Homo sapiens: one gene and its partner. The protein of the gene in region 1 purifies or fractionates together with the protein of each later gene. This does not show direct contact. Each region holds a gene or a part of one and is shown on either strand. Other genes may lie near its edges.

Region 1 (5,092 bases):
TATAATGCAGAATAATTTCACTACCCTAAAAATGCCTGCACTGCACCTATTGACCTCTTTCCCTTCCTGCTGAAATCTGGGAAACCACTAATATTTTTAACCATCTCTATGGTTTTGTCTTTTCCAGACTGCCATATAGTTGGAATTATACATATATATATATAGCATTTTGAGATTGGCTTCTTCATAAGTACTCATGATTCCTCCATGTCTTTTTGCAGCTTAATAGCTATTTTATTTTTATTACTAAGTAATATTCCATCATATAAGTATGTATACTAGTTTGTTTATCCATCACTTTTTGAGGAACATCTTGTTTGTTTCTGGTTTTTGGCATTTATAAATAAAGCTGCTATAAACAAAAATTGTACTAGAATAATGAATGAAAACAATACATAATCATTGCTTTATTTGCACTTATTTTATTTGCAAGTGAGGGTAAACAGATTCGCAAGTTACGTAGTCATTACATTTTCTTTTGTCAACTGCCCATAGCTGCTTTTGGACTTTTTTAAAAAAAATTACATCCGCAGCTAGTTCTTATTGAATGCTTACAATGTAAAAGGGACAATGTATACATCCTTTAAACCAATATCTACTTTATGATTTAGTTTTATTATCTAAGACATTTTACAAAGAAATAACAAGTACAGCTTACACAGTTTCCCCTGTCACACATCAAGTATCAAAAACTAATTTAACTGATTTCAAAAATCTATGCACCTAACCACTCTTTTGTATCTTCTCTATTGACCTATTCCTCTATCAATATGTAATATTACATTAACCTCATTTATGTCCTGACATCACCTCTAATCTACAGAATGGACATTTTAATAGTTGCCTAAAACTCAGCATTATTCTCTTCACCTAAAATTTTTTCACCTCAAATCCTCCCCATTTTAGTAAATGACACCAACCATCCACCAGTCCTAAAGTTAACAAAAAAGCTGCAATCTTTATGCTGTCTTTCACTTTCTAGATTACTCTCATCAGCAAATCTTACTAATACTACCTTCGAATGATCTTCCAATGCAATCATTTCTGATTTTTCTGATTATTTCTACTTCTCATAGTCAGGTCCAAGCCACAATCATTCCCTTTCCTGACCAACCTACAACAGTGTACTGTTTTCATATTTTTATTTTTGAGGTATTATATAAAGTGTGAAGTGTATAGACATACAAAATATGTATGTATCAAGGATCAAGAAAAAGAAAACAGCATTTCTAAAGTTTCCCCGTGTTACTTTCCAAACAATATCCTAAAAATAAAAGGGAAAAAAACAAACAATATCCTTTCTTCCTTCCACAGAGATACCTACTATTCAAACTGTAATCACCATAGATAAGTTTTTAGTGCTTTGGAACTTTAGAACTGAATCAGTTTGTACTCATTTCTACCTACATTTACAATCAACATGTTGAGATTAATCCACAGTTTCATATAGCAATTGTGCCTTATTTTATATTATGCTTTATCCAATTGTATGACTACAGCACAAATTATTTATCAATTTTAGCATATTGTAAAGTGAGATCATTTCCAGGCTTTGGCTATTAAGAAGTAGCCACTAACTTTATTACACGTTTTTTTGTTTTTTGTTTTTTTTGTCTTTTCTAGCTTATTGTTGGTAGAAAAACAGGCTAACACTTTGAATAAACATCTCACAAACTGCTGCTCCTAGATTACAAAAAGTCAAAGCCAATTATCTTTGACACTGAGCCCTTGAATCCTGACATTCAAGTCACAATAATAGAAACCGGAGCTGCTGTACCTTACATTCTGGAAGATGCCTCAACAAAAGCACGTTAAGGACTGTTTAAAACTTCTATTATTTAAAAAGATCCACCTTTCCTCCCATTGCCTATGGAAAATAATAAAAGGAGAATCTCAGAGATCTGCTATTGAGTTTGAGAAGGCCAAGTTTAATGATTCCAAAATGTAGCCTTAAAAACTTCTGGAGAGACTCAGATAAATGACCTCCCCCTCCTCTCCTCTCCCACTGGCCTCTTCAAGTACAGATGATGCATGTATTTCCGGAACCCAGGTAGGACTAGTCAAACAGTCTCATGCTTCTCTAAAAGGCTTCTGGTGTAAGCAGTTTTAATTTATTTTAGTTTTTGCCAATCTTCAGTCCTTAGAAAAGTGTTTTTTTGTTAAAAAAAAAAAAAAAGGGGGGGATAACTATTCTAAGGTATTCAACAAGAAAAGGAAATAGTTATCTTTTATGAAAAGGACTTTCAAGCTCTCTCAGCCCAGTTTAACTGAAACAACTTTACAGAACTATCTTCACATAAAACAGCACCTTACCCCTAGCAGCCGGATGGATGGGATCTACAAACACCGAACATCTCTTAAAATGCGCTCATAGAAACGGTAATACGATGCTCTTTACTTCTTTAAGTCAAATCCACGTTCCTCCGGGCTGCATCCTGAAGAATTAACCGTAGGAGAAACAATAAAGGTCCTCCCGGACAGCCATGAGCAGCCCTGGTGCTCCTCGGAAGCCCCCGAGGCGAGAAGAGAAGGCCACACTGGGAATGTCGTTCTCCGAGGCGGGGTATGGGGAGGGTATGGTTGTGAGCAGGTGGCCATGACGGAGGCTCCAGATTCTCGTGTAGCAGTCCTGGCCCACGGCCGCCACGACTCCTTCTTCTTCGTTCACATGCACGGGTAGGTAGGCGGAGTTATTCACATGACCTTCGTACTGTGTTACACATTTAGTGGCCCTCAAGTCCCACAGCTTGATAGTTCCAGTCATGTCTGATGACACCAGGAATTGGCCATCTTGGAGGATTTGCAGAGAAGTCACTGCTGAATCATGGGACAGGCAAATGGCCTTCCACCCGCTGCCTTGATTTCCACAGCGCAGATCAATGCCAAAGATCTCCCCAGAGCGACAGCCATTAAACAGCAAAGGAGTCATGATTGCAAACTGCTGGGCCAAGACATCACTGCTAGTCCCAAATGACTGCTGGTGTCCCGTCACCACGTTGGTCAACAGGACCTGCTGAGACAAGCCTGTACTGAAAGAGTGATACGCGTGGATGCTCAGGGACCAGGCACAGGACCAGGCATCAGGGATCTGGAAACTGCAAAGCATGCCAGGCCGACGCATTCCTGGGAAGCTACCTATGAACAGCGACGCTGGGAGCAGCACGGCACAGCTTGGAGTATCTGCAAGTCCCACGAAGCACAGCAGAAGGTGGGAATCCAAGTGATTCAGTGAGGCCCAGCACATAGAATTCACCTTCCGATTAGGGACGTAGAGGGTTTTGTGCGGGTATACCCGGAGCTCAGGGGTCGTCAGGCCTCGCATGGTGATGATGCCGTACTTGGAGCCTCCAGCTTCGACTTGGTTCACTGTGAAGAGCTGGTCAGTGTTGGTATTCGCCAGTATGCGGTTAAATCGGTCGCTTGCCAAAGAGGAGGGATCCCAGCTATGAATCTGGACCTTTTTCCTCTGCATGCAGCTTACACGCAGCTCGCGAGCTATACGGCAATAGTTGGCGAATCTGAGGAAACCTAGCTGGTTCTTTCGTAGCATGGAAGGTGCATTGAGTCCCACTCTGACTGTCTTTTTCTGCTTGTCTGCTTCCTCGAGCAGTCGCGGTCTTTTGCTCTCCATTTCGTTCGGCGGATGTTCTCCCTCCTGAGGGGAAGTTCTGTCCCGGGAGTAAGAGGAAGTACCGCTTCTTTACAAGCACGACTTGGCACGGAAGAACTTCCCGCTGCGCCTGCGCCTGTGCGTATGAGGTCGACCCGGACGAGATTCTTCGTCGCCTTGGCCCAAATCCCGAATGCTCTGAGGTGCCCTGACATAACTCTCGTTAGAATCGCGTGATCTGAAACAAGAGTTCCGCTGCTTCTCTCGAGTTTTCCCCTACTCAGACAGCTGCTTTTATTCATTTCTATTCCTGTTTAGAGATTCTTTTCCGACCCCTCTTACACACGTCATAATAGCTGTATGCATACATTTCTCTTATTTACTAAGAAGTGAAATTGGCCCAGCACTTTGGGAGGCCGAGGTGGGCGTATTACGAGGTCAGGAGTTCGAGACCAGCCTGGCCAATATGGTGAAACCCTGTCTCTACTAAAAATACAAAAATGAGCCGGGCATGGTGGCGCGCGCCTGTAGTCCCAGCTACTCGGGAGGCTAAAGCAGAAGAATCGCTTGAACGCAGGAGGCGAAGGTTGCAGTGAGCCGAGATAGCCCCACTGCACTTCAGCCTGGGCGACAAAGGGAGACACCGTCTCAAAAAAAAAAAATTTGAAAGTGGAGGGTTATTAGGTAGACATATATAGCTTAAGTAGATATTGACAAACCAATTACACTCTTGTCAAAATATGGCTTAAGTAGATATTGACAAACCAATTACACTCTTGTCAAAAGTGTATATATATCCTTGCCAATTCTTGTTGGTCAGTTTACATTTTAGATATAAATAATTTATAATTGTTTTTGTCTTCCTGTTGAAAGATTGCCATTATTATTATAAAATATTCCTTTTTAACTTTTATTTATTGATTGACTTTATTTTATTTTTGTGAGATGGAGTCGCGCTCTGTCGCCCAGGCTGGACTGCAGTGGCGTGATCTCGATTCACTGCAAGCTCCGCCTCCCGGGTTCACGCCATTCTCCTGCCTCAGCCTCCTGAGTAGCTGAGACTACAGGCGCCTGCCACCATGCCTGGCTAATTTTTTGTATTTTTAGTAGGGATGGAGTTTCACCATGTTAGCCAGGATGGTCTTGATATCCTGACCTTGTGATCCACCTGCCTTGGCCTCCCAAAGTGCTGGGATTACAGGCATGAGCCACTGCGCCCGACCAACTTTTATTTATTTTATTTTATTTTATTTTATTTTATTTTACTTTATTTTATTTTTTGAGACGGAGTCTCGCTCGTCACCCAGGCTGGAGTGCAATGGCTCTATCTCAGCTCGCTGCAAGCTCCACCTCCCGGGTTCAGGCCATTCTCCTGCCTCAGCCTCCCAAGTAGCTGGGACTACAGGCTCCGCCACCATGCCCGGCTAATTTTTTTGTATTTTTGGTAGAGATGGGGTTTCACCATCTTAGCCAGAATGGTCT
Region 2 (4,663 bases), on another chromosome or scaffold:
CTTAATAAAAATATATCAAAATCTCATAATTTTTATATAAAAGAATATGATAAGAAGGAATTTATTTTATAGCCTCTTAATTTTGTAAGGAACTCTAAAAGTGTATTGGAAGTGAACAGAACATTATTCAAAAATGTTATCAATGCATTATAAATGCTTACGAGAAAGACTAAAACTACCATCATTCCTTAAGGTACAGCAAAACAGCATCTGAAATTTGTTTATTCAGACTTTGGAAGCTTCCTGTAATAAGAGGAGGATAAAAGCTTTCTCTCTTCATTTTCTTTAACTATTTAAATGGATAATGAATAGACTTCCCAGTCATATGGGTCATGTTTACTAAGTCTCAACAATACAATCATTGTTAAGAGTAAAAAGCTGCAATTAGCACTAATGAACAAGAAAGACCGAATCAAATGCTGGGTTTCTAGATGAGCATCGTTTGGATTTGGGCCATAATTTTAACAGAGGAGACATTCACATTTGTCCTTGCCCTTGTTCATATTTTTCTTTCCTGTGCTGTTTTATTGATCTGTCTTGAGGTGGCCGTTCTCTTCCCTGTGTCTTTGCATTCTTGCGGCCTGTATATGGCTTTTCTCTCCAATGTACAGGAAGCAGGTAGTGAGCCCCTGAGCTTAGCTCTAGCACTGCCCTGCTTGTTTGTAGCCATTAACTTGAACTTATTCTGGTCTATATGCCACTGGGGGACTGGCCATTATTCTATTAGAAGATAAGGGCTGTAAAGCAGCACAGGCGTTGAATGATCCTTTTTAAAATCCCAGTGGGACATTTAGGATGACAGTAGGAACTACCCTTTTATCTGCCTTGGGAAAGGAGTAGAAAGAAATGTTAGTAAAACCCACCCTGGAGTCTTGGCACAGAGCTAGCCCCCTCCAGTATCCATTCCTCTAGGGTATCTGAAATTCACTAAAAGTCTCTCCTATCAGAGATGATCAACCTTTTTACATATTTACAAAACACAGCTAGAGAGTTGTTTGATAAAGCGTATAACTTTGCATGCAGAGGCTTATTCACATGGCTCTACCCATCCCTTTTTTTTCCCCTCAGTATAGTATTGTCTTCCTTATTCTTCTTTCTTTTTTTAAAAATTCAATTATGAACACCTTTCTCTTTCTACGAATTTATATTCTATTGATACAGCCCCCTCCATGAGAAGTCCAGAAGAGGTACCTATTTTGCAATTTTCAGAGAATAGGGGTCAGTCCTTATCTTAAAAAACCATGTTTTAGCCTTAGAATCATCATGGCAGGTTTCTCAAATACTGATGACCCCACCCATTACTGGGAAAGAATCTCTCAGTGCGGGGGCTGGCATCTGTACTATGATGAAGCTACCTTGGTGATTCTGATGTGTACCTCTGGTTAAGAATCTCGATGTTCAAACAGGCTCCTTGAGGGAGGGGAGGGAGGGAGAGACCTCAACTTTGCTCATGCTGTGTTCTCAGTGCCAGCACAGTGCCCGGCATAAAAAAGACGCCTAATGCCCCTCTGAGGCTTTATTTCCTTAGCTTCCAGGACATGTCTGCTACAGAGTGGGTGCTCAAAAAATATTGAATTATTTGTGACTTTTAAAAAACTTGGATATTAAAAAATTTACAACTGGCTGGGCATGGTGGCTCACACCTGTAATCCCAGCACTTTGGGAGGCAGAGGCGGGTGAATCACCTGAGGTCAGGAGTTCTAGACCAGCCTGGCCAACACGGTGAAACTCCATCTCCACTAAAAATACAAAAATTAGCTAAGTGTGGTGGCACGTGCCTATAATCCCAGCTACTTGGGAGGCCGAGAGGTGAAGGTTGCAGTGAGTCAGGATCACGCCGCTGCACTCCCGTCTGAGTGACAGAGCGAGATCTGTCTCAAAAAAAAAAAAAAAAAAAAATTACAACTCCTGCTGAAATGTCAAATCTCAACCTTGGCCTGAACTTGGGAAAAGACAAGGTTTTTTTTTTTGTTGTGGTTGTTTGTTTGTTTTTGTTGTTTTTTTTTTGATTGCTTAATGGGGATCTGATATTACATGGGGATCTGATATTTGCATTTAATTAAAAAACCCACATTTTAATGAATCATAGTAAACTGGTTTTCTTTATAAATCTTGGCAATTTACTCACCATGTACAGCTGACTCACTTTATCTTGACACTTGACATAGGCTTCGTAGTCTGCAAAGACTTTAAACCTTTTATTTTGTGAGTGGAAGAGGAAAAAAACAGTCAAAATCTTCATTAATAGATATATGCTAAAATTCCATGTAAAATCATCTTTTGCTTAATATCAGGCATGGCTGGTTTACCAAATTCATATTTCTGTTTGTAAGACTTTTAACCAGCCCTCAACCTTCTTATGGTTCTCACATGTGAGAATGTCATCACTGGGATGCATTTGGAAGTTGGGAATATCAGTGGAAGGAGAAAAAGAGAACCAGATTTGTGTGTGTTATTCTTAAACCTTACTGGCATCGCTGGTGGAGAATATCTAACTTTTTCCCCAAGCCTAAACTACCTGAGCAGATCACGCTAATCTATGCTAATCTACATGAGTGGGTTTAAGTTGGTTTAAGATTGGTTTAAGATTTTCTTGTTGGTTTTAGAGTTGGTTGGTTTAAGATTTTCTTGTCCCCCTTTCATGATCCAAATAGCACCATCTTCTTATGGGAACTCACCTGTCATGATAAAATAGCATGTTGATGATATCTTTGAAGAGGTCAGGCTGCTTGGGAGAAAAAAAGCCATTGTCAATTTGATCAATGACCAGCTTCAGCTCTGGAAGTGCCTCATAGTATTCTTTTGCCTCGTACCTGTGGGGTAGGGGTGGGTGGGTGATAAAAAAAGGCTCTGTTATTGTGTTGTGTGATTAACAACACACTAGACACTGCATTCACTGTGAAAAAATACATTCAGAAATACTAGCATTCAAAGACTTCATTATAGATTTCACCATGAGTATATATAACTTTTAACTAGATCTGTAAGTTTTTCTTCCTGTAAATTTGATTCCTTATAACCAAAGACACTAAGAACAATAGATAATGAAAACTCTAGTCAAACATCAAGAGTCTGATGTGGTAGAATACAGCAAGGTCCATTTCAAAGCAGACTTTATGGCTTTAAATGAACATTGTATTAAGTAGATCAGTTGCTTTTTGGATCCACAGATTCTCAAAAGTTGTTGCTACTGAGTGAAACTGACTTCCAAGGGTCAGGAAGTATATTCAACATCCTCCAAATGTTACTTCTTTGGGCAGTACTCTTTATTTTGTGCTTGAACTCAGGTTAATAAACCCATCCAGATATGAAGTGAAAATAAATGTTTCCAATTACTTCTGTACACCCGTATCTATTCTCTATCACATTTTAGTGCATTTCTTTGATATCTTAAAGGAGCACTAGATCATGATTTAAATTATAGGCAACCCTTCCAACTAGAAACTGGTTCATCTTTTGATCAAAGTAAAAATCATACATACGGAGGAAAAATAGCTCTTTGAGGCCAGCTCTGCAATGGCCGATAACAAATAGCAACTCCTCCATGTGTCTGTACTTTTATTTGCTGGGTTTAATAATATTAATCTGTGGCCAGGAGGCTCTCCTGCCTCATCGTGGGAGATGTTCTGCTGCCACCTCTTATGTGATCCAATTTCAGTGGGATATCGGTGTGGGCAGGAAGCCCTCTGAGGTCACATACCTTCTAGGGGGGAGGGGCAGTCCTGCCTAGCAAAGAGAAGCTATTCTCTTACCCTTTCTTGTCCAAAGCAGCCACATCATCTATCCTCATGCCAAAGATGAACAGGTTCTCTTCCCCAGCTTCTTCTGCCATTTCCACATTGGCCCCATCCATGGTCCCGATAGTTAGGGCCCCATTTAGCATGAACTTCATATTGCCTGTCCCCGAGGCTTCGGTGCCTGCAGTGGAAATCTGCTCTGACAGATCTGTGGCTGGAATGACTGCAAGAAAGGTAAGTTAAAATTAGTAATTTTGTCTGTCTAGATCTGCTTGTATTGTATTGAAGCATTTATTAAGTTGGGCTGTTTTGATAATTAAAGTAATACATGCACATTAAGATAAACATTCAAATGGTCTAGAAGGCAGATCACACTCTTTCCCCTTGACTCAGGCAACCACTTTTGTCCATTTTATATGCTTGTATTTCTTTCTCGAGCTATAAACTTTGAAGAGTATCTATTGACTGCGACAAACATTGATACTACATTTCTCTTCTTCCTTTTATTCCTTCCAATTTTTGTTACAGTTTTATTTTTATTTCTTCTACTTTATAAAATATATTGAAATTTCTCTTTTTTTCTTTCTCTTTTTTGGTACAGGGTCTCTCTCTGTCACCCAGGCTGGAGTGCAGTGGTGCGATTACAGCTCTCTGCAGCCTTGACCTCCTAGGCTCAAGCAATCTTCCTGCCCCAGCCTCCCAAGTAGCTGCAATTACAAGCGAGCACCACCATGTCCAGCTAATTTTTTAAAATTTTTGTATGTATGGGGTCTCCCTATGCTGCCCAGGCTGAACTTCTCTCTCTTGATCCATAACATTCAGAGTGTCCCTCCAGGACTCCTCTTTGGCAACCTGAGGAGACTGGATTGTCTGCATTCCTTCTACTTCTCACCTCCTTCCTTCCACTTTTCCTGCAGGGAAATAAG

What was found.
Region 2: the proteins of DCAF4L2 (region 1) and PYGL purify together in Homo sapiens (affinity purification with mass spectrometry; 3 studies listed by BioGRID and IntAct, with this or other methods). This does not show direct contact.

The regions. Positions count from the first base shown.
Region 1 is NC_000008.11:87,870,341-87,875,432, forward strand, and holds DCAF4L2 (DDB1- and CUL4-associated factor 4-like protein 2), read right to left. Parts: upstream 3,676-5,092; 5' UTR 3,632-3,675; coding exon 2,444-3,631; 3' UTR 407-2,443; downstream 1-406.
Region 2 is NC_000014.9:50,906,143-50,910,805, forward strand, and holds part of PYGL (glycogen phosphorylase, liver form), read right to left. Parts: intron 3,961-4,663; coding exon 3,753-3,960; intron 2,814-3,752; coding exon 2,679-2,813; intron 2,196-2,678; coding exon 2,129-2,195; intron 1-2,128. UniProt on the Homo sapiens protein: Allosteric enzyme that catalyzes the rate-limiting step in glycogen catabolism, the phosphorolytic cleavage of glycogen to produce glucose-1-phosphate, and plays a central role in maintaining cellular and organismal glucose homeostasis.